Linked DNA regions of Homo sapiens. The protein of the gene in region 6 purifies or fractionates together with the protein of the main gene of each other region. This does not show direct contact. Each region holds a gene or a part of one and is shown on either strand. Other genes may lie near its edges.

What was found.
Region 1: the proteins of MS4A15 (region 6) and SLC12A6 purify together in Homo sapiens (affinity purification with mass spectrometry; one large-scale study listed by BioGRID and IntAct). This does not show direct contact.
Region 2: the proteins of MS4A15 (region 6) and TMEM63B purify together in Homo sapiens (affinity purification with mass spectrometry; one large-scale study listed by BioGRID and IntAct). This does not show direct contact.
Region 3: the proteins of MS4A15 (region 6) and CYP51A1 purify together in Homo sapiens (affinity purification with mass spectrometry; one large-scale study listed by BioGRID and IntAct). This does not show direct contact.
Region 4: the proteins of MS4A15 (region 6) and TMEM63A purify together in Homo sapiens (affinity purification with mass spectrometry; one large-scale study listed by BioGRID and IntAct). This does not show direct contact.
Region 5: the proteins of MS4A15 (region 6) and ST7L purify together in Homo sapiens (affinity purification with mass spectrometry; one large-scale study listed by BioGRID and IntAct). This does not show direct contact.
Region 7: the proteins of MS4A15 (region 6) and MARCHF6 purify together in Homo sapiens (affinity purification with mass spectrometry; one large-scale study listed by BioGRID and IntAct). This does not show direct contact.

Annotation. Positions count from the first base shown.
Region 1 is NC_000015.10:34,250,782-34,254,281, reverse strand, and holds part of SLC12A6 (solute carrier family 12 member 6), read left to right. Parts: intron 1-1,897; coding exon 1,898-2,112; intron 2,113-3,224; coding exon 3,225-3,383; intron 3,384-3,500.
Region 2 is NC_000006.12:44,130,554-44,134,053, forward strand, and holds part of TMEM63B (mechanosensitive cation channel TMEM63B), read left to right. Parts: intron 1-1,663; exon of another isoform or gene 1,664-1,733; coding exon of another isoform or gene 1,734-1,736; intron 1,737-3,500. UniProt on the Homo sapiens protein: Mechanosensitive cation channel with low conductance and high activation threshold. Osmosensitive cation channel preferentially activated by hypotonic stress.
Region 3 is NC_000007.14:92,127,978-92,131,477, forward strand, and holds part of CYP51A1 (lanosterol 14-alpha demethylase), read right to left. Parts: intron 1,080-3,500; coding exon 903-1,079; intron 1-902. UniProt on the Homo sapiens protein: Sterol 14alpha-demethylase that plays a critical role in the cholesterol biosynthesis pathway, being cholesterol the major sterol component in mammalian membranes as well as a precursor for bile acid and steroid hormone synthesis.
Region 4 is NC_000001.11:225,861,881-225,865,380, forward strand, and holds part of TMEM63A (mechanosensitive cation channel TMEM63A), read right to left. Parts: intron 972-3,500; coding exon 891-971; intron 699-890; coding exon 575-698; intron 472-574; coding exon 338-471; intron 1-337. UniProt on the Homo sapiens protein: Mechanosensitive cation channel with low conductance and high activation threshold. In contrast to TMEM63B, does not show phospholipid scramblase activity. Acts as a regulator of lysosomal morphology by mediating lysosomal mechanosensitivity.
Region 5 is NC_000001.11:112,581,142-112,584,641, forward strand, and holds part of ST7L (suppressor of tumorigenicity 7 protein-like), read right to left. Parts: intron 2,986-3,500; coding exon 2,831-2,985; intron 1,332-2,830; coding exon 1,234-1,331; intron 966-1,233; coding exon 851-965; intron 1-850.
Region 6 is NC_000011.10:60,773,867-60,777,233, reverse strand, and holds the end of MS4A15 (membrane-spanning 4-domains subfamily A member 15), read right to left. Parts: coding exon 3,284-3,367; intron 1,630-3,283; coding exon 1,519-1,629; 3' UTR 501-1,518; downstream 1-500. UniProt on the Homo sapiens protein: May be involved in signal transduction as a component of a multimeric receptor complex.
Region 7 is NC_000005.10:10,398,695-10,402,194, forward strand, and holds part of MARCHF6 (E3 ubiquitin-protein ligase MARCHF6), read left to right. Parts: intron 1-2,089; coding exon 2,090-2,148; intron 2,149-2,218; exon of another isoform or gene 2,219-2,792; intron 2,793-3,364; coding exon 3,365-3,445; intron 3,446-3,500. UniProt on the Homo sapiens protein: Endoplasmic reticulum membrane-associated E3 ubiquitin ligase that plays a critical role in mitigating endoplasmic reticulum stress, the regulation of cholesterol and lipid homeostasis, and ferroptosis.

The DNA.
Region 1 (3,500 bases), on a different chromosome or scaffold from region 6:
TAATTTTAAGTCAGAATTTCATAGAGTCTCTCTGAGATTTTCCCTCTCAGATAAGCCCAGTTAGACTTCCTTCCTCATCTAGGCAGGAAGCCTACCAGCAAACTATGTCCCGTTCATCCTCTTTCTTATGTCCTAAGCATAGAACTAGTAGCTGTAACCATCATTTAGGTTCAGATATTAGATTTTTTTCTCCCTGATAATTGTACATAATCTTTTTTTATTATACACATTTTGAACTATTCATAAAGGGCTTTGCAGACAGTGTAGTTATTGCCAGCAACCTTTATAAGGCCCACCTTGGCCTCCCGACGTGCTGGGATTACAGGCGTGAGCCACTGCGCCCAGCCTAGGTCAGGGCTTTTATCCATTACCCAAATAATGTACTTTGTACCCATTAAGTACTCTCTCATCATTCACCACCTCCTTCAACTCCCTAGTGCGAATACTTTAAAGTATGTTTTTTGAAGTAGTAATGGATTTGTGCACATCTGTGACTCACAGGCTCACTTTTCCCTTTGACTAGTGGCATAGGGACTAGCTGGCACTCAGTGTTATTTGTAGTCTTGTTACAGAATTATCTTGAAGAGTCATCTGGATTATCTGAGGATCAAACTCATCGGTTCTATGTTGATTTAACCAGATTACAGAAAAAAAGATTTTTCAAGACAAAAAGACAGTTCCAGTAGGTTTAATGACTTACCTCAAAGTTAATTAATGGCAGAGCAAGAAGATGAACTGTGATTTCCTGACTCCCCATTCAGTATTTCTTCTATGCTATGCTGCATGATGGCAGAAGTAGATTCCATCTTAAACTTTTAATCTGCTTATCTAGGGACTGTAATACAGCTGAAGGTCCTTTTTAGGGGCATAAAATTTCTAAAGGTGACATTCTGGTTATATCTCAATTTGGGAAATTCCATTTTGTCTCAGGTTCACCTTTGGGGCTTCTCCTCTTTTTTGATTAGTACACGGTCATAATGCATGGTATTTTCTTTGAGATATTCCAGCAAAACAAGACAAAAAATCTAGAATAATACATGAAACAAGACTGGGAAATGTTGAGAGTTGTTGAAGCTGAGTAATAGGTACATGGTTCATAATAATGTATTCAATCATTTTGCAAATTTTAGAAGTCCCTTTGTTGGACCTGAGAGGTATTTTAACTATGGATGTATTATTCCTTTGTTTATATTTGTGTCTCTGGGTTAAAGAAAAAAGTAAAACCAGCAGGTTAATATTTATGTTATCCTTACCGTCACTCCCACTGAGTCTAGGCTTAAATTCAAAAACAGTTTTCTCTTAGGCCATAGAGGGATCTGCCTTTTAATTCTGACCAAGCTGTTTTCCTTGCAACAGTAGCCAGAAGATTCAACCTTTAGCATAACATTTTCAAGGTGTTTGTTATGAATGTTAGGCTTTTCTAGGCCAAAAAAAGAGGAGTGCTTTTTACTTTATAAGAACAACAAAAGGACTTCAGTATTCTTTTAGACCTAACAATTTTAGCCAAAAATTTTGGAAGATGAGTCAGCATAATGTCTTCAGACAGTTCTTCAATTTGACTTCCTTCACTGCCACCACCTATGACCTTGGACAGATAACTGTATTTCCCTAACCTTCAATTAACTCCCTGTCTTCCTAAACTTCAGTGCCTCCATCCACAACATAGAAATTCTAATACATTGTGAGGTTGCTGTAAGTATTAAATTGGCAGAAAATGTAAGTCACCATTCACAGTGTTAAAATAAATTATAAATAAATAAACATTAGTTCCTTTCCCACCCATAACAGTAGAAGCTCTTAAAGATGGGGTTCTTGTTTCCTTTACTAACCTGTTTCCTTTTTTTTTAATGTACTTTTTTTCCTTACTTGATCTTTCTCCCTATTTCTTTTCACTTAGGGTCTGCATGCTGGGTAACCGCACCCTTTCATCAAGACACATTGACGTTTGCTCTAAGACCAAGGAAATTAACAACATGACAGTCCCATCAAAGTTATGGGGATTCTTCTGTAACTCGAGTCAATTTTTCAATGCCACCTGTGATGAATACTTTGTTCACAATAACGTCACTTCAATCCAGGGCATTCCTGGATTGGCTAGTGGTATAATTACAGGTAAGTTAGGGAGTTATTGGACAAGTTTTTTCCTATTTTCTGGGGAAAATAGGCCTTGTCATCTTAGATTCCTCTACTGTCCATAAAGATTCACTGCCATGGTGCTAATTCCCTTCTTAAGCACACCACACAGCTCTTAATTCACCATATTTCTGCTTTTCCATTAGTAAAGCTGTCCTTATTCAGTACTCCTTTACAGAGTGATGTCTGCTAAAATTCACCTCCATTTCAGAGCAGAGTTGAGCAAATCACTTTCTAACCTTACGGTAAAATATTCCGTGTATTCTTGTAAAATTGCCAATGTTCTTCCTGCACTGACAGAATAGACCTGTTTTAATGTCCACATCCACATGTATCTTCCTAACTTAGCTAAATTCCTGAAACATTCCTTAAGTGTCTTCTATTATAAATGTTTGGTCTATAAATTTCTTTGCACATAAGTAAGTTTACATTAAGGTGTTAGAAACAGCACTGATGACAAATAATAATGGGATTTGTGGGGCATTTAGTTTTAGTCTGTTTAACTTTTACTAATTTGCATTAGTAAAGTTAAACTATATTTGCATGTACCAAATCATTTTGTCAAATTATATTTAAATTAGATAAGAAAGAACATTATGTTTAGCTGGGCGCCGTGGGTTATGCCTGTAATCCTAGCACTTTGGGAGGCCTAGGTGGGAGGATCATGAGGTCAGGAGATCGAGACCATCCTGGCTAACATGGTGAAACCTCGTCTCTACTAAAAATATAAAAAATTAGCTGGGCGTGGTGGCAGGCGCCTGTAGTCCCAGCTACTCAGGATGCTGAGGCAGGAGAATGGCGTGAACCTGGGAGGCAGAGCTTGCAGTGAGCCAAGATTGTGCCACTGCACTCCAGCCTGGTGACAGAGTAAAACTCTGTCTCAAAAAACAAACAAACAAAAAAAAAACTATGTTTTTATTTATGTGTGTTTTATTGTGCAATGTGTGTGTATACATGTGCTCATGTAGAAGCAAACACACCTTTAGAAACTGTATAAATGAGGAGCCTGATTTTGAATGTTTGGGTAGAAAATTAATTATCTTTTTTTTTTCATACTGCTGCTGCTTAAATTCCCATTTTTCCCACTGCAGAGAATCTTTGGAGTAATTACCTACCCAAGGGAGAGATCATCGAAAAGCCTTCAGCCAAATCTTCTGATGTCTTAGGCAGCTTAAACCATGAATATGTTCTTGTTGACATCACCACCTCCTTCACGCTTCTGGTGGGAATCTTCTTTCCCTCTGTTACAGGTAAACACATAGGCTGTTGTATATTTTAGAAGCTGTCAGACCCACGGAGTGATTTTTCTCAGGAGGCAGAATTCTCAGGGTTCCTAGATTTGCTTCTACTCTTTGCTATCAGTATCA
Region 2 (3,500 bases), on a different chromosome or scaffold from region 6:
CTCAGCTTCCGGAGTAGCTGGGACTACAGACATGCACCAGCATGCCCAGCTAAATTTTGGTGGTGGGGGGTATCTTTTGTAGAGACGGGGTTTTGCTATGTTGCCCAAGCTGGTCTCGAACTCCTGGGCTGACGTGATTCTCCCACCACAGCCTCCCAAAGTGCTGGGATTACAGGTGTGAGCCACCATGCCTGGCTTTTTTTTTTTTTTCCCCTCGAGACAAGGTTTTGCTCTCTTGCCCAGGCTGGAGTGCAGTGGCATGATCATGGCTGACTGCAGCCTCCAACTCCTAGGCTCAAGGTATCTTCCCCACTTGGCCTTCAAAAGTGCTGAGATTACAGGGGTGAGCCACCCCACCCTGCCTACTACTACTTTTTTTTTTGAGATGGAGTCTCACTCTGTCGCCCAGGCTGGAGTGCAGTGGCATGATCTAAGGTCACTGCAACCTCTGCCTCCTGGGTTCAAGTGATTCTCCTGCCTCAGCCTCCCGAGTAGCTGGGACTACAGACGCATGCCACCACACCCAGCTAATTTTTGTATTTTTTTAGTAGAGACGGGGTTTCACTGTGTTGGCCAGGCTGGTCTCGAACTCCTGACCCTGTGATCTGCCCAGCTCGGCCTCCCAAAATGCTGGGATTACAGGTGTGAGCCACCGTGCCTGGCACCTACTACTACTTTTATGCTCACTTGTGGATATATTCTTGCCTTTCTCTCTGAAGTGGGTAGGGGTAGAGTAAGGATATTTGTATCTCTTTGTTACAGATTGGAAGACTGAGACTCAGGTTTCGTAGTAACAGAGCTCGCTTCCATCTTCCCCTCCTCCCCTCAGACCACATGGCCTTGCTTTGATCCAAAGCCCTAACTTAAATCTTGCCCAGTAACTCCACTGAAAAAGCTTATATCACTCCTGTAATCCCAGCACTTTGGGAGGCCGAGGTGGGCAGATCATGAGGTCAAGAGATCGAGACCATCCTGGCCAACATGGTGAAACCCTGTCTCTACTGAAAATACAAAAATTAGCTGGGCGTGGTGGCATGTGTCTGTAGTCCCAGCTACTCAGGAGGCTGAGGCAGGAGAATCCCTTGAACCCAGGAGGCAGAGGTTGCAGTGAGCCAAGATCGCGCCACTGCACTCCACTCTGGTGACAGAGCGAGACTCCGTCTCAAAAAAATACACAACAACCCCCCCAAAAAAAAGCTTATAAGTTATAGCTCTCCAACCCCCACCATGCACACACTCCTTAATGGTAAAATTAAAAAGTTAGCTAGAAGTAAAATGCTCCATCACTCTCTGGACACACCTCAACCAAAACCTCAATATCAGACTAGAGAAACTGGGATATAGCTGGTGCAGGCACCTCGTGGAGTGGAAGAACTGCCACCTCCCATCCCCAAGGTATTCTGCCTCAATGTCTTCCCTCTTCTCAGTTGCTCAGCCCAGTGCTGGCTTTGAGAGCAGCTGCCCTTGATGAAACTCAACCCAGCAACCCCACCCCCACAATTAAAAGCTTGGAGCAGCCCTGTCAACTGGCAGAGCTGCCAGCCCAGGCTCCACCCCTTACCTGTCCTGTCACTGTGCAAGTTGCTTCCCCTACTGGGTTCCTGCTTCCTCCCTGTAAAATGGGGATAGTGATCTGAGTGTGCCCTGCCTTCCTCCCATGCAGGTGGGAAGATTAATGCTGTTGTGGAGGGGAGAGTACTTTGTGACCCCAAGGAGGCGGACAGCAGAGGAGCATGGTGATTTCAGTTACTAACCATCTAGCTAGATCCTGTCCACCCTGCTGGGGCCACTTCATGTAGAAGCTTCCAAAATGCTCTACCTTTCTTTGGTGTGGAGAAGACAGGAGTTGATAGGAATGGTACTCTGGGGCTTGTTCTCATTTCATTCTGATCTGATGGAGCCTTGGAATTCAGAGAGAGAAACAGGCAAGGGGTGGGAATAGAGTGTTGAGATTGCTGGAGTACATTGGAGTTGAGAATTGAGAAAGGGGGACTAGTTAGAGTCCCCCCAACCCAAGATACCTATACCTACCTTTAACCTCCCATAGTGCCCCAGGGTTCTGTGCATCTTATGTTTACATACCCGGGCTCCCAGACACACCCATGTTCACACCCCCACTTCGAAGCCAACAACTCCCTTCATTTCCGTGGACTGCCATGCAGTCACCTAGCTCCTCCTGGACACAGGTCCACACATCAACACACATTTACATACCTGGACACACACATTTCCACAGCACCCACAGGTTCTCTGGCCTGAGAACATTTAATGAGCATTTATAAAGCTTCCATGGTCTGCCGAGTCCTGTTCTAGGAACATCAGAAAAGCACCGTGGTGCCCTGAAAATCATTCTAGCTTTAGAAAGAAGGTGAGCTAGGTTTGAGTCCTAGGTCCCTCATTTTATTAGCAGTGTGACCTTGGGAAAGTTACTTAACCTCTGAGGCCCTGTGCCCCCACCCTAAAATGTCAGTGACACTCAATTCAGGATCGTCGAGGATTAAATGAAATCATGTAATATATTATTCTTGAAACTGAGGGCACTGGACAAATGGTACCCAATACAATTACTAAATTAGTGTGTTTTTAAAGGCAGCTTGGACTGGAAAAGGAAGAGGCATAACACACCAGCACACACTCCTTTAGTCTTCCTAATCCAGGCTTTGCAGAGACTCCCTGGGACCAAGTGAAACACATAAACAACTCCATCCTCCCCTCCATCTGAGGGCTTCTGCCTCTTGCCCTGTGGTTGAAGTGTTAGGAAGAGGCAGGAGAAACCCTCTGAGTCCCCCTGGGGGCTAAGGGATGCTGCTCCCGAAGTTGCAGTCACTGTTTCTAGTTTTGTTGTTCTCTTTGGTTTTCCTTTTTCTTCCCTGAGGACCTCCTCCCCTGCTCCACAGCCCGCCCCCGAGGCAGAGCTTCAGTGTTGTCAGCAGAAGGGTCCCCCAGGGACCCCCCAGTAAAATGGGTGGGGCAGTGCTGCATCTGTTGAGGCCACACTTCTCCGCTATCCTGGGATCCTCCCCAGGGCCCCACTCTGCTCTGTCCCCAAGCACTTTGAGAACCCAGGCACTCAGGCTGGCTGTCCCTTTTCTCCTCCTGCCCACCCCATCCACTCTGAGCATCAATGCAGCCGGCCAGTTGCAGGCAACCAGGCAGCACCCTGGCTGCCCAGGCAGGCTAAGAGGCCCCCACCCACTCCCCCCTCCTTTGCCAGTGGAAAAGCTTGCCGTAGGGCATAGCTTTCCCAGCCTTCCCTGCTTCAGAGGCAGGAGCATGGCACTCTGGGAGTTGTAGTGCTCATAACACTCAGGCGATCCCTGTGCAAATAACTGGAGAGAGGACTATGGTATGGGGAAGAGAAATGAGAATAAGCAGGAGTGGCTGGGGCCAGGCAGGTAACTCAAACCCAGAAGTCCTACTATTTACTTGACTTCCTACTCTGACCCATCGTCGAACCTAAGCCAGTTATATTGAGTTCAAAACTCTAACCAAATGAAATC
Region 3 (3,500 bases), on a different chromosome or scaffold from region 6:
CCCATACCAAGCATTGGGGCCAATTGTCTGATTTGTGTTCTATATCAACTTAAAACAATTTCGTATTTGGCTTTTGAGGGTAAAACATACACATAGATGTACCCCACACGTGAAGTTGTTGCATTAAAAGAGGACTTCTGAAGTCAGCAATCTCTAAACAGCGCTTATGTTAGAATTTCAGGCAGGAATGGGTAGGCAGGAAGTCCTTTTGATGAAGTAACAGCATTGTCTAATAACCCTTTCAAATTAAATCCCAGTATGCTAAGTTATCATTGATTCCATTATTTGTACAGGAAGCCCTTTAATATTGTTTAGCCATGACAGCAAATATAAAACTAAATACCCATTACTTATCAGTTATCCATGGCCTTTCTTCTCATGATTCTTCAGACTTTTGAACCAAGGAATAAACTGGTTCTACATTTTATTACATTTTTGTTTGGTTGGTTTCTGTGTGTGTGTGTGTGTGTGTGTGTGTGCGCGTGCGTGTGTGTGTGTGTGTTTGGTTTTTTGTTTCTGTTTTTGAGACAGGGTCTCACTCTGTTGCCAAGGCTAAAGTGCAGTGTTGTGATCTCGGCTCACTGCAACCTCCGCCTCCTGGGTTCAAGCGATTCTCATGCCTCAGCCTCCCAAGTAGCTGGAATTTACAGGTGTGCACCACCAGCCCCACCCAGCTAATTTTTGTATTTTTAGTAGAGACAGGGTTTCACCATGTTGGCCAGGCTGGTCTTGAACTCCTGACTTTGAGTGATCCACCCACCTTGGCCTCCCAAAGTGCTGGGATTACAGGAATGAGCCACCATGCCTGGCTGTTTCTACATTTTAAATGTATAATGTCTCACTATTAGCTATAACTACTGAGGTATAGATTTGTCTTTATTTATGGTAACAGTGTCACCTACTGGATTAGGCACATCGTATGCAACTCCCTTCCCAAACACAGGTGTTGTCAGGCGACTGTAGACATCTTCTGCATTCAGGTCTTCATTTTTACTATTAAAAAGCAGTGCAGCAGCATCACTCCCCAGAAGGTAAGTAAATGTCTTGCCTACCATGGTAAAACTAAATACAGGTCCATACTAAAAAGAGAAAAGTACATATAGTGATGTTACAAAAAATATGCAACACTACGACAGTAACTTTTTAAAATCACAAAATAATGCATTATTAAAAAAATAAAAACATATATAAACCTTAAAGCAATTCTTTTCATCTTGCCATACTCCTCCTTCCTTTGTCCAAATTTATAATTATGTTCATTTAGTTGCAAATGTAGTATAAATATAACTGTTTATTATGCTTTTTTCAGTTTATATTGACAATGTTTTCTATTGTCTATATAAACATCACAATGTTAATTTACTGACTACTCTTTCATTATTGGACATATGGGTGATATGTCAGGGTTTTCTTTAGTTATTACAGCTAATTCTGTGATGAACACCTCTGAAAATATAGACTTCTTCCCCCTTTGGTTAAAAACAAATTTTACAAGACTAGCCAAAGAATTTGACCTTTTCTATAGTACCTGCTATGTGAAGACACTACAAGTTTATTTATCTATTTTAGCACTATCTCACCTACACTAAATGACTTCATTTTTTATTTTATATTAATTTGGTTAGATGTTAAATACTTTCCCTTGCAGTTTTCTGGTTATGATTGAAGACTAGACTCTGGGGGTATAATCATGAAAAAAAATACTGTCCCAACTCACCAAGCTTAGTCTATTGGAAAAAATACAAATTAATCAAATAATCACATTAACAAACATAAAACTGCAAATGTGACAAGTATTACAGAAAGGAAAGCAACTCTGTGATGAGAGAATCTAAAAAAGGGAGACCTAATAGAGGAAAAGACAACTAGGTTGAGACCAGAAGAATGAGGAGCTGGTTTGGTAGCTAAACATACACAAAGGCCCTAAAAGTAAGAGAAAGAGAAAGGAGGAGATGAGAGTTGAGCATTAGGCAGTGCTAGACCATACAGAGCCTCATAAGCCATTTTGAGGAAGTTTTTAAACGGGTGACAAGAATTTTTCAGAGAAAAAGGAAAGATGCCATTGAAAAAGAAGTCAACAATACACTGAGAAAACAAATAAAAGTAAAAAGTTCCTGAGACAAAAGAGGGATGGAGAGTTCAGCCTCCGATAAGAGGCAAAATATAGTTGTAATAAAATCAAAGTGGTAGAACGCAGTGAGCCAGACTGTCCGTGTTCAAATCCCAGCTCCTCCACCTACTTGCTGTATGACTTTGGTCCTATAGTCAGAGAACTTAGTCTCTCTGTGTTTCGTTTCTCTCACCTATAAAATGGTAATAATAATAATAGCAGTTCTTCACAGAGCTGCTGCCAAATTTTATATACAGGGCAGAGAAGAGTACCTTGGCTTACTTAGCATCTTAATGACTTGTTTTCCATTATTGTTATCATTAATAAAAGTATAGGCTCAGAAATCAGACCATGTGTAAATCCTGGCTTGGCCACTGTCTAGCAGTGAGTCCAAGAAGAAATTATATATCCTCTCTGCTTCTCAGTTTTGTCATCTATAAAACAAATATACCTGAAAGGGTTTTTGTGGAGCTTCAGTGAGATGATCTTTGTAAAGCACTAAGTACTGGCATAAAGTAAGTGTTTGATAATTATTACTGTGATAGGAAGAAAGAGAATAGGATTACTATATAAATACAAGTAGGTTTGCATATTTGAAATTGAGAAAATGAGGAAGTTTTCTTTGAATGTTTTAATAATTGTCTCCTAAATCAACGTTTTTAATCATTGTCTCCTAAACAGGAGAAAAAATCATCTGCTTTGATGGAGAGGTAGAAAGATTCAGAAGTTTAGAAAAGTGAAGGTTTGAATTAGTCACTGTAATGAGTGGAAAAGTAGGCCCAATCACAAGAACATAATAGGACTGTGGAGCAGTGTTCAAATATCATTAAGGTAGGCAATCATAAAATCAGGAAGAAACTAATCTGGTGCAGAAGGAGACAATAACTGGCTGCCTCCAAGGGTGACTTCTGCCAGCTGAACACAATGAAAAGATGCGGGGTCGAGGAAATTTAAAGTACAGTATTGCCAAGAGTGTAACAGAAACGACATGCCATGGACCCAAAGCGGAAAGAGGAAAGTGAAGAATGAAGGCTGATGGATCAGGAGAAAGTAAATGGAATGCAAGATCCAATGAGGTCAAAGAATAGTTATAATTTAAGGAGTTGCACAAGCAAACCAGGAGACGGTATGGTCTACGAATAGGATATCTAAATTAATATTGTGGAAGTGAAACAGTTAAGAGTGACAAGTCCAAAGCGAGACTGTGAAGTAAATGGCTTAACTGGCACAGGGAAGCTCATTAGAGAGAAGACGGGCAAATAATTGAGTAGCTATGGTGTCATGTGGGTCATTCAAGTGGACAGTGAAATCACAGAAGATGTATAGAGCAGGTTAGAAAACCCCACAGATGCATGGTAAAGAAAAATGAGGGTTAATTAATATCAATTTT
Region 4 (3,500 bases), on a different chromosome or scaffold from region 6:
ATCTCCCCTGGGGCAAGGCTGGCACATGAAGCCAACAGGATGGGTCCAGGGCAGCAGGGAAGAGCCCAGCAGTGGGGCCAGGCCACATCAGCTCGAGGGGGTCAGCCAGAATCACCCACTCCGTGGCTGCTGCCCACACCCCCACCGCCTGTTACACAAACATGGGCTGGGCTGGCTGAAAGTGAGTGTGGGTAGCTGAGGGAGGAGAAGGAAACACCACAGATAAATCCCAGGGATGGTGGGTCAGCAGTACCATCTCCACTCGAGAGGGACAGTGAGTTATCTGGAGGGGAACAGGGAGTCAGCCAAGAAGGGGTCTGGATGTGCCTACACTCACTAGGTGGCCATGGACTTCTCCTGGAAGGTGACGAAGGCCATTCCCAGGGGCTGGTCCTGGACGTGGCGTTCTTCCTCTGTGATCCTCTCCAGCAGCCTGTCCTTCATCCGTGTGTAGTAAGAGATGGCGTCTTCCTGCCACAAGACACATCCCATTGGGATGACGTGGCCCCATGCTGGTATCTGGGGCACCCCGATGCCAATGCCTCTGCTCCCAGCCGGGGGGTGGGACCCTTACCCACTCACAGCCCAGCACTTCACAGCAGCAAAACTGGCCACAGGGCTTGGGGTTGATGAGGGTCCGCTGGCCTGTCTTCACCTGCAGGTTTGTGTAATAGGTCAGGCTCTTCTCAGTCTTCTTTCTGTAGGGGTGGGAGCGGGGGCACAAACCTCAGATTTAGAATCCTGTGGCAGGGACCCCCATACCCACAGTTCAACCATCGAACGCCAGGGGAGAAGGAGGGGTCCAGGGCCTCCCGCCTCCCTTCCTAGCTGGGAGATGCGAGGCCAGCAAGGAAGGAGGGGGCATCTTGCAAGGCCCGCCCACCACTCACTTCTCCTTGCACAGGTAGATCAGTTTGGCCACGTTGTAGCACAGCTGCACATCAACCACCTCACACGTGGGATACGCGTCCCTGTGGCCAGGGAGAGAAGGAGGCAAAAGACACCGTTGGAAAAGAAAACACCCCAAGCAGGAGACGTGCCCACGGATCCAAGGGAAAGGATGGCAGAGTGATCTCGCTGCTGGTTTCTGTGCCAGCGGAGACCTCTCTTCTCTTTGTCTTTTATCCTCCAAAAGGGGGAAATTTTGAAATTTAATACAAAGAGGGCTTTTGTTTTGTTTTGTTTTGTTTAGAGACAGGGTCTCACTCTGTCACCCAGGCTGCTGTACAGTGGCACAATCATGGCTCACTGTAGCCTCAACCTTCTGGGCTCAATCAATCCTCCCACCTCAGCCTCCTGAGTAGCTGGGGCTACAGGCACATGCCACCAGGCTGATTTTTATTTTTTGTAGAGACGGGGTCTCGCTATGTTGCCCAGGCTGATTTCGAACTTCTGGCCTCAAGCACTCCTCCTGTCTCACCCTCCCAAAGTGCTGGGATTGTAGGCGTGAGTCACTGCACCCCGCTAGCCTTTTTTAGTAGTATGAAGCTAACTGCCTGGAACTGACAAGTTTATACCCACTTGGCTTGGAATCAGCTGGCACTTCTCCTGGGGAAAAATGAACACATCACTATCCCCTCTAAAGACCCAAAGGAACAGATTTATTGTTTGTGCTAGGTCAGTATCTACCTTGAGCCATCACTGAAATCCTATTCAGGTAGCCTTTTTTAAGGTCACAGACCTTTCAGAGGGTCTAATGAAAGCAAAGGACCCTCAGACCAGAAAATATCTACACACATATTAACAACCAGCAAGGCCAGGTGCGGTGGCTCATGCCTGTAATCCCAGCACTTCGGGAGGCTGAGCCGGGTGGATCACTTGAGGTCAGGAGTTTGCGACCAGCCTGGCCAATGTGGTGAAACGCTGTCTCTACTAAAAATACAAAAATTAGCCAGGTGTGGTGGCACACACCTGTAATCCAGCTACTTGGGAGGCTGGGGCACGAGAATCACTTGAACCTGGGAGGCAGAGGTTGCAGTGAGCAAGATTGCCCCACTGCACTCCAGCCTGGGCAACAGAGTGAGACTCCGTCTCAAAAAAAAAAAAAAAAAAAAAAAAAACCCAGCAAAATACATACTCACTATTGACCAGGTATTGTTACATATATTTATTTATTTAATCCTCATCATAACCTGTGAGGTTTTGTCCCCATTTTACAGATGAGTAAACTGAGGCCGACAGAGGTAAGTGGCTTGTGCCCAAGATCACACAGCTAGTGAGTGTCTGAGCCAGGAGGTGAATACAGGCAACCTGGCTCCAAGGTCAATGCTCATGGCCACCATGCAATACCCCCTCACCATACACGCAAAATTATACATACAATTCCAGGGGATTCCAGAACCATGTAAATCCCCACCTACCACCTGCCAGGCACTGTTCTAGGTGCTGGTAACAGGGCCTGGATGTGCTTACATTTTAGTGAGAGAGACAGCCCATAGGTATATCAATCATGAAATTAAACAGTAGGACAATTTCTGGTCTCAATAAGAGCTGTGAGGAAGAAAACTGCAATTTAAGCATCCCTGCTTGAAAGGCAAATTCATACATCAATCCCCACGGACTGCAACAGCATTCACTAAAAAGGCCTCTTAAAATAGGGGAAAGCATGAGTCATGCAATGTTTGTATGAGAATGAGGAGACTTTTTTTTTCTCTTTAAAGTTATACATTAAGTGGAATTACTGTTTCCAGGTGTTGCCTAGCAGGCAACTTTGAGGAGTTGCTTCAAGGAAATACAGAAAAATGATTCTGGTATTGAGTATTTACATATTAGTAAATATTTCTAAAATACTTAGAGTTTCTGAAGAAGTTTTTCAAATTTTAAACATTCAGTTTACGATCCTGTCTAGCAATTTGCTTAGCAAGTGCTTTCTTCACAAATAGTGCAAAGTTAAAGTGCAGCCAACTCCTAGTCCATGCAACAAATTAGTGGCTGCTGTATTGATAAGGAATGAAGAGAGGCCGGGCATGGTGGCTCACGCCTGTAATCCCAGCACTTTGGGAGGGCAAGGCAGGAGGATCACTTGAGCCCAGCAATTCGAGACCAGCCTGGGCAACATAGCAAGACTCTATCTCCATAAAAAATTTAAAAATTAGCTGGGTGTGGTGCCATGTGTCTGCAGTCCCAGCTACTTGGGAGGCTGAGGCAGGAAGATGCCTTAAGTCCAGGAGTTGAGGCCGCAGTAAGCTATTATTGCACTACTGAACTCTAGCCTGGGCAACAGAGCAAGACCCTGTCTCTAAAAAAATAAGATTACAAAAAAAGGAATGAAGAAAGAATAAAATGTCAGCTCCTCAGCCCAGCCTTCAGGTCCTCCAGCATGGGGTCCTGGGAGCCTTCCCGGACTGCTTGCCCTGCCCCCCTGCACCCCACCGCCACCTTTCCTGATGCTCTGGGCCTTTCCCCGCATCCCTGGCTGCACACGTAATCTCCTCACAGGAAAGACTTTCCTCCAGCCTCCATCTGCAGGAATTGGTGGTGCAGATACTCAAAGGGAGCCG
Region 5 (3,500 bases), on a different chromosome or scaffold from region 6:
TATCATTGAACTTTGTAACTAAAAAGCATTGTAAAAATGTTATTCTGAATTGCTCTTATAGTATATACTGCTAAGCAACTTCTCTGTTAGGCTTGCTTGACACTCCAAAACAAATAAGGTACCCCTACTATGTGCACAGCACCCATACTTCTCCAATTATCTCCCAAACATGCTGTCTTCAATGTAACTGCTGCTCATTTGTCTGTATGCTCCACTAAACTGTAAATAAACTGTAAATCCTATGAGGGCTCCCCGTCTTTTTTTTTTTTTTTTTTGAGACAGGGTCTCCCTCTGTCGCCTAGGCTGGACTACAGTGGTGCAGTCACAGCTCACTACAGCCTGAACCTCCCAGGTTCAAGTGATCCTCCCACCTTAGCCTCCCAAGTAGCTGGGACTACAGGTACACACCACCAAACCCAGCTAATTTTTTTAAAAAATTTTTTTGTAGAGACAGGGTCTTGCCATGTTGCCCATGCTGGTCTCCAACTCCTGGGCTCAAGTGATCCTCCCACCTCAGTCTCCAAAACAAAATGCTGGGATTACAGGTGTGAGCCACCATGCCCAGCCTCCCATGTTGTCTTGTTCACTGTCATATTCTGAATGACTCACTCATATTAGAAACAAGCACTCAATAAACAAACAAGTAAATCTTGACAGAAGAAAAGTTCTTCCTTGCAGACTTTTGCTAATGAAAGTCCTGATAAAGAAGATACTAAATAGCAACCTCTGAGTGCTAAATACTGACTGGTAAGAACAGAAAGAGAAAATTAAATACTAGAATATAACCACATTTATAATTACATAATTGGAAAAGAATAACCATGCTATCAACTAAGGGAATATGACTCACCATCATATTTTGCTAGGACTGCCTGAACATCTGGATAGGCCTGTAATTCTAAAAGTGATTCTAAGAGATTTTCATGGATGTTCAACATGGTAAGAGGAGGAAATTCTTTCATCAACTGTATATTAAAAGGAAAAGAAAGATTAAAATCATAACAAAGGAACTCAATAGAGCTGAGCCAGATTCATTAAGTAGAAATTCTTGTTTCTTACCATAGCTGTGAAGAAGACCTAACCCTTAAGAAAGGTACGTATATTAAATAAATACCTTGTTCTAAAAACTACCAATTAAAATACAATGATTCTGCATTAAAATAACTGGCAACTTAACTAAATTTTTAGTTTCTGGAGGAATAAATGTAATAGTCCCATCATCAATTTACTTACATCTCTCATTATTTTTACTGCTTCTCTTATTCTTCCTAATTTTCTTGCACACATTGCCAATCTTCTTTTAATATATACCAGTACATTGGTATCTCTCCCTATTTAGAAAAACAAAAAAATGATACAACTATCACTTTTGTATTGTGGGCTGCTATTTCATTAACATATCCATTAATTTTATTTGCTTCCCTTGGAAGAGTCAATTAAAATTAAATTGTGTCAGAATGGAAGAATATTAATGATGTCTACATTTGGATGATAAATATTGAACAGGAGTGTTCTCTATTTTTGCGCATGTTTCAAGTTTTCTGTATTAAAACTTAAAATACACATTTAATTATTTTTGCCTCTAATAGTAACTTAAGTACAGTATATATAATTCGTGTATGATTGACAAGTTTATTTTACCATTAGCAAAAAAGAAATACATACATTATAGTAAGATATAACATTAACCTAGTATTTAAGTTTGTGCATAAATGATCTACTATTCTGATACTCTCTATTGTTTTAAATGAAAAACAAAAAATGTCCAAAACAAAATTTCCATGGCTAATGTAAACTTTTCTTAACAGTGAGTAGTTGACAAACTATAAAACTACTTCTAGAAAGAGCTAACAAATATTTCTGTAACTAGCTCATAACCGTATTTGAGATTATTCAAAGACAAATGGCATGACATTTTTAAAGATGTAGTTTCATTAGTTCCAGGCTACAAAATTATATATTCCCACAGATTTGTGTTATAAAAACTGTGCATTAATGAAACATACCATATATATCTGTATTTAGCTTAGGGAGAAAAACATTATCCAAATTTTAATTTACACATAAAAAAAGATTTAGAACTTAGCTGCCAGTAGATAATGCATTATATAAACATATTTCAATTTATTACCCACTATTTGCCAAAATCATGAAACTAAAACCCTCTGGCCATAAAAATAGCAGGAAGCAGCATCATTGCTGATTCTAACATCTTTGGTAAAAAAAAATCTCAATCATAACTGGTAGAGCATATCTAAGAACAGAAAGGACTTCTGTTGCTATGGCTCATCTGATCTCAAGCACATCATGGAGAAAAATCAACCAAAGAAAGAATCAATGCCAAGTATGAGGTTGGATTTTGGGCTAAGAATCAGATGGTGTGAAAGGGGCCACTCCCTAGCACTATATGCAGATACACAGTCTGAAGAACCAACCAAATAATGTACCTCTACTGTTGCTTAGAGTAAGGGTGAGGATAAAGATAACAGCTGCTTATCATCACTAGAAGGCTCTCCTGAATGCTGAAAGTTTTTGAGTTATGTTTTTACAATGACCAGCCCAATTCTCACATGAAATAAATTACTGTTAAGTCTCAGAGCAGCACATCTTCTCTCAATAACCTGAGCAGATCTATTCCCTTCCACAAGCATTCTCTGGCTAATACACATTTCTGTCTTGCTGGCTTGTAGGTATTGTGAATAGATTAGTTATTTCCAGTGAAAATTAACTAACCTGTAAGTATTAAGTTTTTTATTATTGTTGTTTGTGTTAAGACACAAGCAAATTACAGATGCTAAAAGACAGTAATAACCAGTTCAAACTTGCTTACTCAGTTGAGCTTCATGCTGAGGACTTTGGTGCTGGCACTGCTGTGACTGCCTATAAATTGTTTCTCCTGCCTTGAGTGCCTGTTTAAATAACCTTTCAGCATCTACAATAGTTGTTGCTTCTTCCTCAGCCAGTAGAACATATGCAGTGGCACAGCTATGAAGAAAGCAAGAAGGCAATTTTAAATAAAATGGTAAAGCAAGTGTTTTCTCTTGGTTATGTCCCTTTGCTCTATGTCATATTTCCTTACCTACACTTTTTCCATCTTTAGAAAAAAAAAAACCTTCGTTCAATATTTTACCTTAATAGGGGCACATTGGTATATTCTTTATGTCTGATTCCACAATTCTTCCACTTTCTTATCTTTCCCTTCTCTTTGTTTTTTAAAAAAAAAAAACAAAATTTTTAAACTTCTATCTCATTCTCTGACCCATTGTCCTGTGTTTTCTTTTTGTGAAAGGGGGGAGAAAAGAAGATTTATAAAGAATTATCTGAATTGTATACCCTCTACTGGTCATACCTGCTTTTTTTTTTGAGATGGAATTTTGCTTTTGTCACCCAGGCTGGAGTGCAATGGCCCAATCTTGGCTCACTGAAACCTGGGCCTCCTGGGTTCAAGCAATTCTCCTGCCTCAGCCTCCCGAGTAGCTGGGATTACAGGCATGCAGCAC
Region 6 (3,367 bases):
TCACAGAAGGGGCAACGTTTAAATAGGGCCTTAAAGGAGGAGGGGGAGTTTGTTGGGTGAAGAAGAAGTGAGTGTGTTGAGGAATGCAGCCCTGCCTTAGTTTTGGGGATGAAGAAACAGAAGGAAGGAGGAAAAGGGGTTGGTGGGAAGCACTTAGGTTTGTACTAAGGGGAGACCAAGTGGTGAGAACACGGACTCTGACGTCACATGGAACTAGGTTTGGATCCCAGTTTTGCTCCTAACTAGCTCGGTGGCCTTGGGCATATAATTTAACACCTTTAAGCTTCAGTGTCCTTAGTTGTGGAGTGGGGATATGAAGGCATGTTTGTTTGAACCGAGATGGGGACAGAGTAAGTGTAAGGATTACACCACACAGAGCGAGGCACCCAGAGGTGCCCTTTTGTGACAGTGGGATAGTTACCCAGGTCCTCTGATAAACATGGGATGACCCTTGGAAGCCCCTGAGGTTAAAAAGAAAAAGTCATTGCAACAAGACCAGCTCAAAATTTAAGCCACATGGTTTATTTCCTTCTGTGGTGTGGATGAGACAAGCCATCTCATCTACCAGGCCTGGTGAACACCAGGCTGACAGTGTCTCCTTGTCCCCTGGAGACGAAGCCCAGGTCCTGTGGTAACCTTCTGTGGTAGCCTTGTCCTTGGGCTATGGGGGTGGGGAAGGGAGTGCTGAGAGGCACAGGGAGGTCCCAAACTGCCACTGCTGTGCCCCTGTCGATGCTGACTGTGGTGGTGCCTCAGGAGTGGGCTGGCGGCAGCTCTCCCCTGCAACCTCCCCTCCATTGGGAGATGGTAGGGGGTGGGGGGCGGGGCCAATGCTGACTTCATATTACAGACAAGGAAAATGAGGGTTTCCAGGAAGCAGGGGGACAATGCCTGGCCTAGACCCAGGACTTCAGGGAGCCTGGGGAGCTGGAAGGGCCTGATGAACCTTATCTGGTTCAACACTCTAGTTTCCAAATAGGAAACCTGAGTTCCATGGATGTGGCAACAGATGACAAAGGACAGAGCTGATCTTGGGGCCAGGAGACCTGCGGCCAGGCCACTACCCTGCTGTGAGGCCTTGGCCTGGTATCGGCACCTCTGTGGAATGCCAGAGTCAGACTCTTCCATTCTGGAGGATTCCGGGCTCTCTGACCTTCCCGAGGCCCGAGGGTCAGGGCAGGCCTCGAACCTGAGTCTCCAATGAGGCCAGGATTTCCCCAATGAGCAGAGAAATGCTTAGATGCACAAGGTGGGTGTCCTGGAAGGGTGACAGGGCTCAGGGAGCTGAAGGACACACACCCCTGACGTCAGCCCGGTGTCTTTTAGAAAGAAAGCACTGGGGAAAGTGTGGGAGAGATGTCCCTGGGGACACTTCACTCAGATGCCGGAGTATGTGTAGATGTGGTGAGGGAGGGCAGCTGGGATGGGGCTGGCCCCTGATGAACAAGGTGGGGGTGGGGAGAGGCTGGGCCCAGAGGGAAAAGGCTGGACTCCACCCGCAGGTGCCACATCTGCTACTCAGACGACTCCTTGGGCATATGCCACATTGTCATAGGCAGGGGGCGCAGAGGCTGCCGGGCTGGGGATGTTGAAGTCTGCGCTGAAGGCGTTTGGCAGGAAGATCACAGGCTGCAAAGAAAACAGCACTGAGCGTCCTGGAGGACGCTGGAGCTTCAGGGTAGTGGTTCAATAGTGCCCCCTTGTGGGTAATCTGAGAACAGCGCCCTGGTACTGAATTCCGCAAGTCTGAATCGCATGCTCAGGGCTCTCCGTGCAACCAATATTTCAAACAACATTTACTGGGGCCAGCTATGATCCAGGCATTGGGAGTACAGCAGTGAACAAAACAGACAAAAGTCCCATTTCTCCAGGCGCTAACGTTCTGCTGTTCTTTTTTTTCTTTTCTTTTTTTTTTTGAGACAGAGTTTTGCTCTTGTTGCCCAGGCTGGAGTGCAATGGCGTGATCTCGGCTCACTGCAACCTCCGCCTCTTGGGTTCAAGCTATTCTCCTGCCTCAGCCTCCCGAGTAGCTGGGATTATAGGCGCCTGCCACCATGCCCAGGTAATTTTTTGTATTTTTAGTAGAGACGGGGTTTCATCATGTTGGCCAGGCTGGTCTTGAACTCCTGACCTCAGATGATCTGCCCGCCTCGGCCTCCCAAAGTGCCGGGGTTACAGGCATGAGCCACCACGTCCGGCTCTGCTGTTCTTTCTCTCCCGACTGCCCTGGCCTGGTTCAGGACTTCGCTCTCTCTTGCCTGCACCGTGGCACCAGCCTCCTTGCAGCTTCCTGGCCTCGAGCCCCGCTTGTCCACCCTCTCCACCTTCCGGCACTGGACAAATCCTCTTGACTGATTTCCCTCAACCAGCTCACTCCCCTGCTCAGACCTTCAATCCCCTCACCCTCAATGCATCCCATCGTGCACCTGCCAAGGGCACCCCACCCTGTGGCCTGCATTTGCCTGCCCGAGGCAGCCTTTGCTCCAACTGGTTCCCCTGCCTTGAACACTCCCTCCAGCCCCTTTCTGTCATCACTGTCCTCCATTTTTTTTGGAAATCAAAGCTTAATTTCCATCTCTATCATGCTGCCCTCCCTGATGCCCCTGTCTCCCATGTGGCCTGGGAACTCCAAAAAGTCTCACTCCTCTGGGTGCAGCACTGCCCCCATGCCCTGAGCCTGGGCCTTCTATTCTGCAAGGCTGCCTGTGGGGCTGCACAGAGCAGTGGCCCTGTGGGTGCTGGTGCACCCAGTGCCACGGGGAGAGCAGTCCTGTCTTCACTGACCTGCGAAGACGTCTTTGGTTTTGTTTTGGTTTTAGAGACAGCCTTCCTCTGTCACCCAGGCTGAAGGGCAGTGGTGTGATCATAGCTCACTGCAGCCTCAACCTCCTGGGCTCAAGCGATCCTCCTGCCTCAGCCTCCCAACTAGCTAGGAGTACAGGCACGTACCATCACACATGGCTAATTAAAAATACATTTTTTTTTGTAGCGATAGGATCTTTTTATGTTGCCCAGGCTTGTCTCAAACTCCAGGGCTCAAGAGATCCTCCCATCTCATTTTTCAAAGTGCTGGGGTTATGGGTGTGAGTCACCATGCCCAGCCCAAAGACTTCTTTGGGCCCCCTGACATGGATGGGACACCCTTCCTAGCGCTGTCTCTTCTTATTGCTTCCCAGAGTGCAGAGGGAGGGGTCTGGAGGCAGAGCGCGCTCCCAGCCAACTGCCTTCCACACAGGCTCAGCTCAGGTTTAGTGGACGTGGGGGTGGGGGTGGGGGTACTCACTGCACTGGCCTGGGCATGGATGGCTTGGCACCCGAAGTGCATGGCAATGACCGCTGTGAAGAACTCCAGGACAGTGAAGATAGT
Region 7 (3,500 bases), on a different chromosome or scaffold from region 6:
AATTATACAAATAAGAACTCTGATTTATAGAAATCAAATCTAAGTAAAGCTTTTTCTAATCCAACCTCCTGAGCTTATATTGCGAAAAGAATTTTCTTAGTAAACTTATGTTTTATTATATAGTTAGAATCTTTTGGAATCTTTTGAAATGAAACAAGTTTTCTTCCATTAGGAACATACTTTTTCTTTTAATCATTGGGATTAAACACCCTCCTGTTTTTTTCTTGCATGGGTTGCTCTGTTGGAAGTTTTCTACAGGCAGTTTTTTGGCTCTTGTGGTCATATGCTTTGCAGAAATATAATTTGACAAAGCTGTGGTCTTCCACTAGAAGGTGACAATCCTGAGAAATTGTCCTTAATTTCAGGATGCCTTTCCATTAGTTTGTGTGTAATGGGATGGAAATTGATTGTTGCAACTGGTATTTAAGGTTAATAATTATTTAATACATCTGCTAATAGAGTTAAAACTTGCCCCTCCCAGGGGCCTAGTTGAGTCATCTTCAGACTGGGATATGAGAGCAAAATAGGCAAAATTCAACATACAGTTTTTTTCCTTACCTTATTAAATTTCTTCTGCTTTATATTACACACAATATGTTAGTAAACTAATACGTATATATAATTTATAAATAAATTTAAATATATTGGAAATACATGTTCAAAAATATTCTTACCCATGAAATAGTCAGAAAGGGTTAGAGGCCAGATCCCTAGTAGGTTCACTCTGACTTCTGTCTTCATGATTGAGTTTCCCACTCCCCTGGTAATCTACTGCGCTGTCGATTTATTTCTACCATAAAGAAAAGATAACTATATTTTATTATTAGGAATGAAGTAAAATTTAGCCAGAAAGACTTGAGGAAAAAGAAGACTATAAAAATTCTCTTGCTATAAAGGTTTTAAAAATACTTTCATACTTAGCTATAATGCCATTATCTCACCTTACAAAATTACTAGAATTTGGTATTTCCTAATAATCCATCATATTCAAACTCTCTGGGTTGTCCCTTACATACCATTTTGCAGTTGGTTTCTTTGAATGAAGACCCAAATAAGGTCCACATATTACTTTTAGTTGTTAAGTTATAAGTTATTAGTCTTTTAATCTAGAGTACTCTTCTCTTTGCTTCCCCCAACTCACCCTATTTGGCCATTGATTTGTTGCTGGGATTAGGTTAACTGTTCTTGCAGCATGTCATGTTTTACATCTGTCCATCTGCTTCCTGGATGTCCTCTGCCTTTATCCTTTGTCTCCCATATTTCTCTTAAACTGGAAGTCAGATCTAAGGGCCTTATTAGATTCAGGTTGAATACATCTGGGACAAATCCATCACTGGTCACACTGTGCCTATTAATAGTATATGTGAGGAGCTGAGATACATGATGTTGGATTATCCACTTTTATCACTGGATTCAGCTGATATCAACCTGGGCCTCTAATCTTAGGTTTTGTTTTTCCCTTTACCATTATAAAATAATCTGTTGGGAGTGATATTTTAAACAGTCATTTTTTATATTTATTGGCTGACTTTTCTGAAAGAAGAAGAAATTCTTATCAATTTGGGACTATTCAGTCAACCCAAACCTGTCTGTCCGGGGCAAGTAGGACAGATGCTCATATTTTTCCCATTAATTTTGGTTTTCAGAATAAGGAATTGGTGTATTAACTATTCACATGGGTGTGCTAACTGCTTCCAAAACATCAAAGTGTTTTCTTTGATGTTGCTTTTTCTCTTTTCGTGATTATTATTTTGGACTTTTCCTTTTTTGAGCATCATAAACTCATGGATTTGTGTATGTTCAGTGTTTTTCCATCAGTTTTGGTCATTATTCTTTTTGATGCTCATATTATCCTCTCTTTGGCCTGTTTTCACAATGGTTTCTGTGTTGATTTGGCATGGCCCTATTAGACCTTAATAGCTTTGTTGTTCTCTAGTTACAGAGAATGTCCTAGGCAGTGTATTTTTAGCCTAGTTCTGGAATCTTTCATTTCTCCAAGAAGCCCTAGTTCCTTTTAGTGGGGAATTGTAGTAGGAGTGTTCATTGTTTTGATGTCGGAGTTTTCATGGAATTTTTTCCCCCTTTTTAGCATTTTGCCCTTACCATATTGGTCATTTCTCCCTTGTTGGTTTGGGATTTGAAGAACACGTGAGTATAATACTTTTACAAAGTTACTTTCATTCATTACTCCCAAATGTGATTATTAATAAAATAGTATTCTAAAGAGTTACATCATTTCTTCATTGGCATTATGCAAGGGAATAGTTAGGCAATACCGTCTCATTCTTTTTTAAAAAAAATAACAGTGGCTCAAGAGATAGTGGTCATGTTGCCAACTAATGAAAATGTGCTCTGAAATCCAGTCAGCTGGGTGGGCCTGAGGCATACCGTGGGAAAGTTTCCCACAGGCTGATTTTCTGTCCATCTCAAGAACCTGTATGTTCTCTTCTTTCCCTTTCCCCAGGTGCCCCCTGCTGAATTTAGAAAAGTAACAATATATCAATCAATTTAAAAAGGGTAGAATATTTTGGAATGACGGGTTGTAGTGTTTTCTAGAGTGCTTTAGTTTTGACATTTTATCAGTATTTTCCAGAGGTAAATAAATTTTGGAAGGATTATTACTTCTCTGTTGGGGCCCTAGAACAATTTAGTCTTTTATGGAAAAGCTGACTATCTGGGATCATATGCTCAGTTTGTATATTTGAGATCTGAGAGATCACGTTCTGAAGTCTTCTCATATTTAGTACACCTCTGATTCTCACTAGTTGAATGCAAGAACTTGAAAGGTTCAGGTAAGTGTTTTGAAAAATTTTGACTTTCCAAACTTTTGCCACTTGCTATCTGAAACTCAGGAATCAAAAAATACCGACAGGCACTGTTACTTTCAAAATTCTTTCTATAAGTTGAGAATGGGACAGATTTGCAGAGCAAGGGAAACTTGAACAGTTACTTCTAGTGGTAGGAAATGAGGTGGCTAGGATATTACCCAGCTGGTGGGTGACTTGGGCAGTGTGTTCCTGCTTTCAGTGGTTAGCCTTTAGCAAATCTGCTTTAGAGTGAGAGTAGAGGGCAGGCTGTTGTATTACAGTGCTCTTGTTTTTGTAAAATTTAATTCACTCTACTGTTATTTTGTCTCCTTGGGTAAAGTGTTATTTAATTTTTCTTCATTTTTTAGTAATATATAACAGTCAGTGAGAGAATTTGGTTTTCAGAGATGTCATCCAAAGCAGATTTTACAGTTGTTTCCTGGTTATAAATTGTCTCAACAATTCTCTTTTAGTCATTTAGATTGTTTAATATGGGAAAACCGGGGTGTAGAACATGTTGTAAAATTAAATTTTATTTACTTTTTTCTTATTTCCAGGTCCAAGCATCTCATTTTGAAGGCCTAATCACAACCATAGTTGGGTATATACTTTTAGCAATAACACTGATAATTTGTCATGTATCCTTTAATGAACCAACTTGGGTGTACACTAATATTATTCATACCAAAGAAC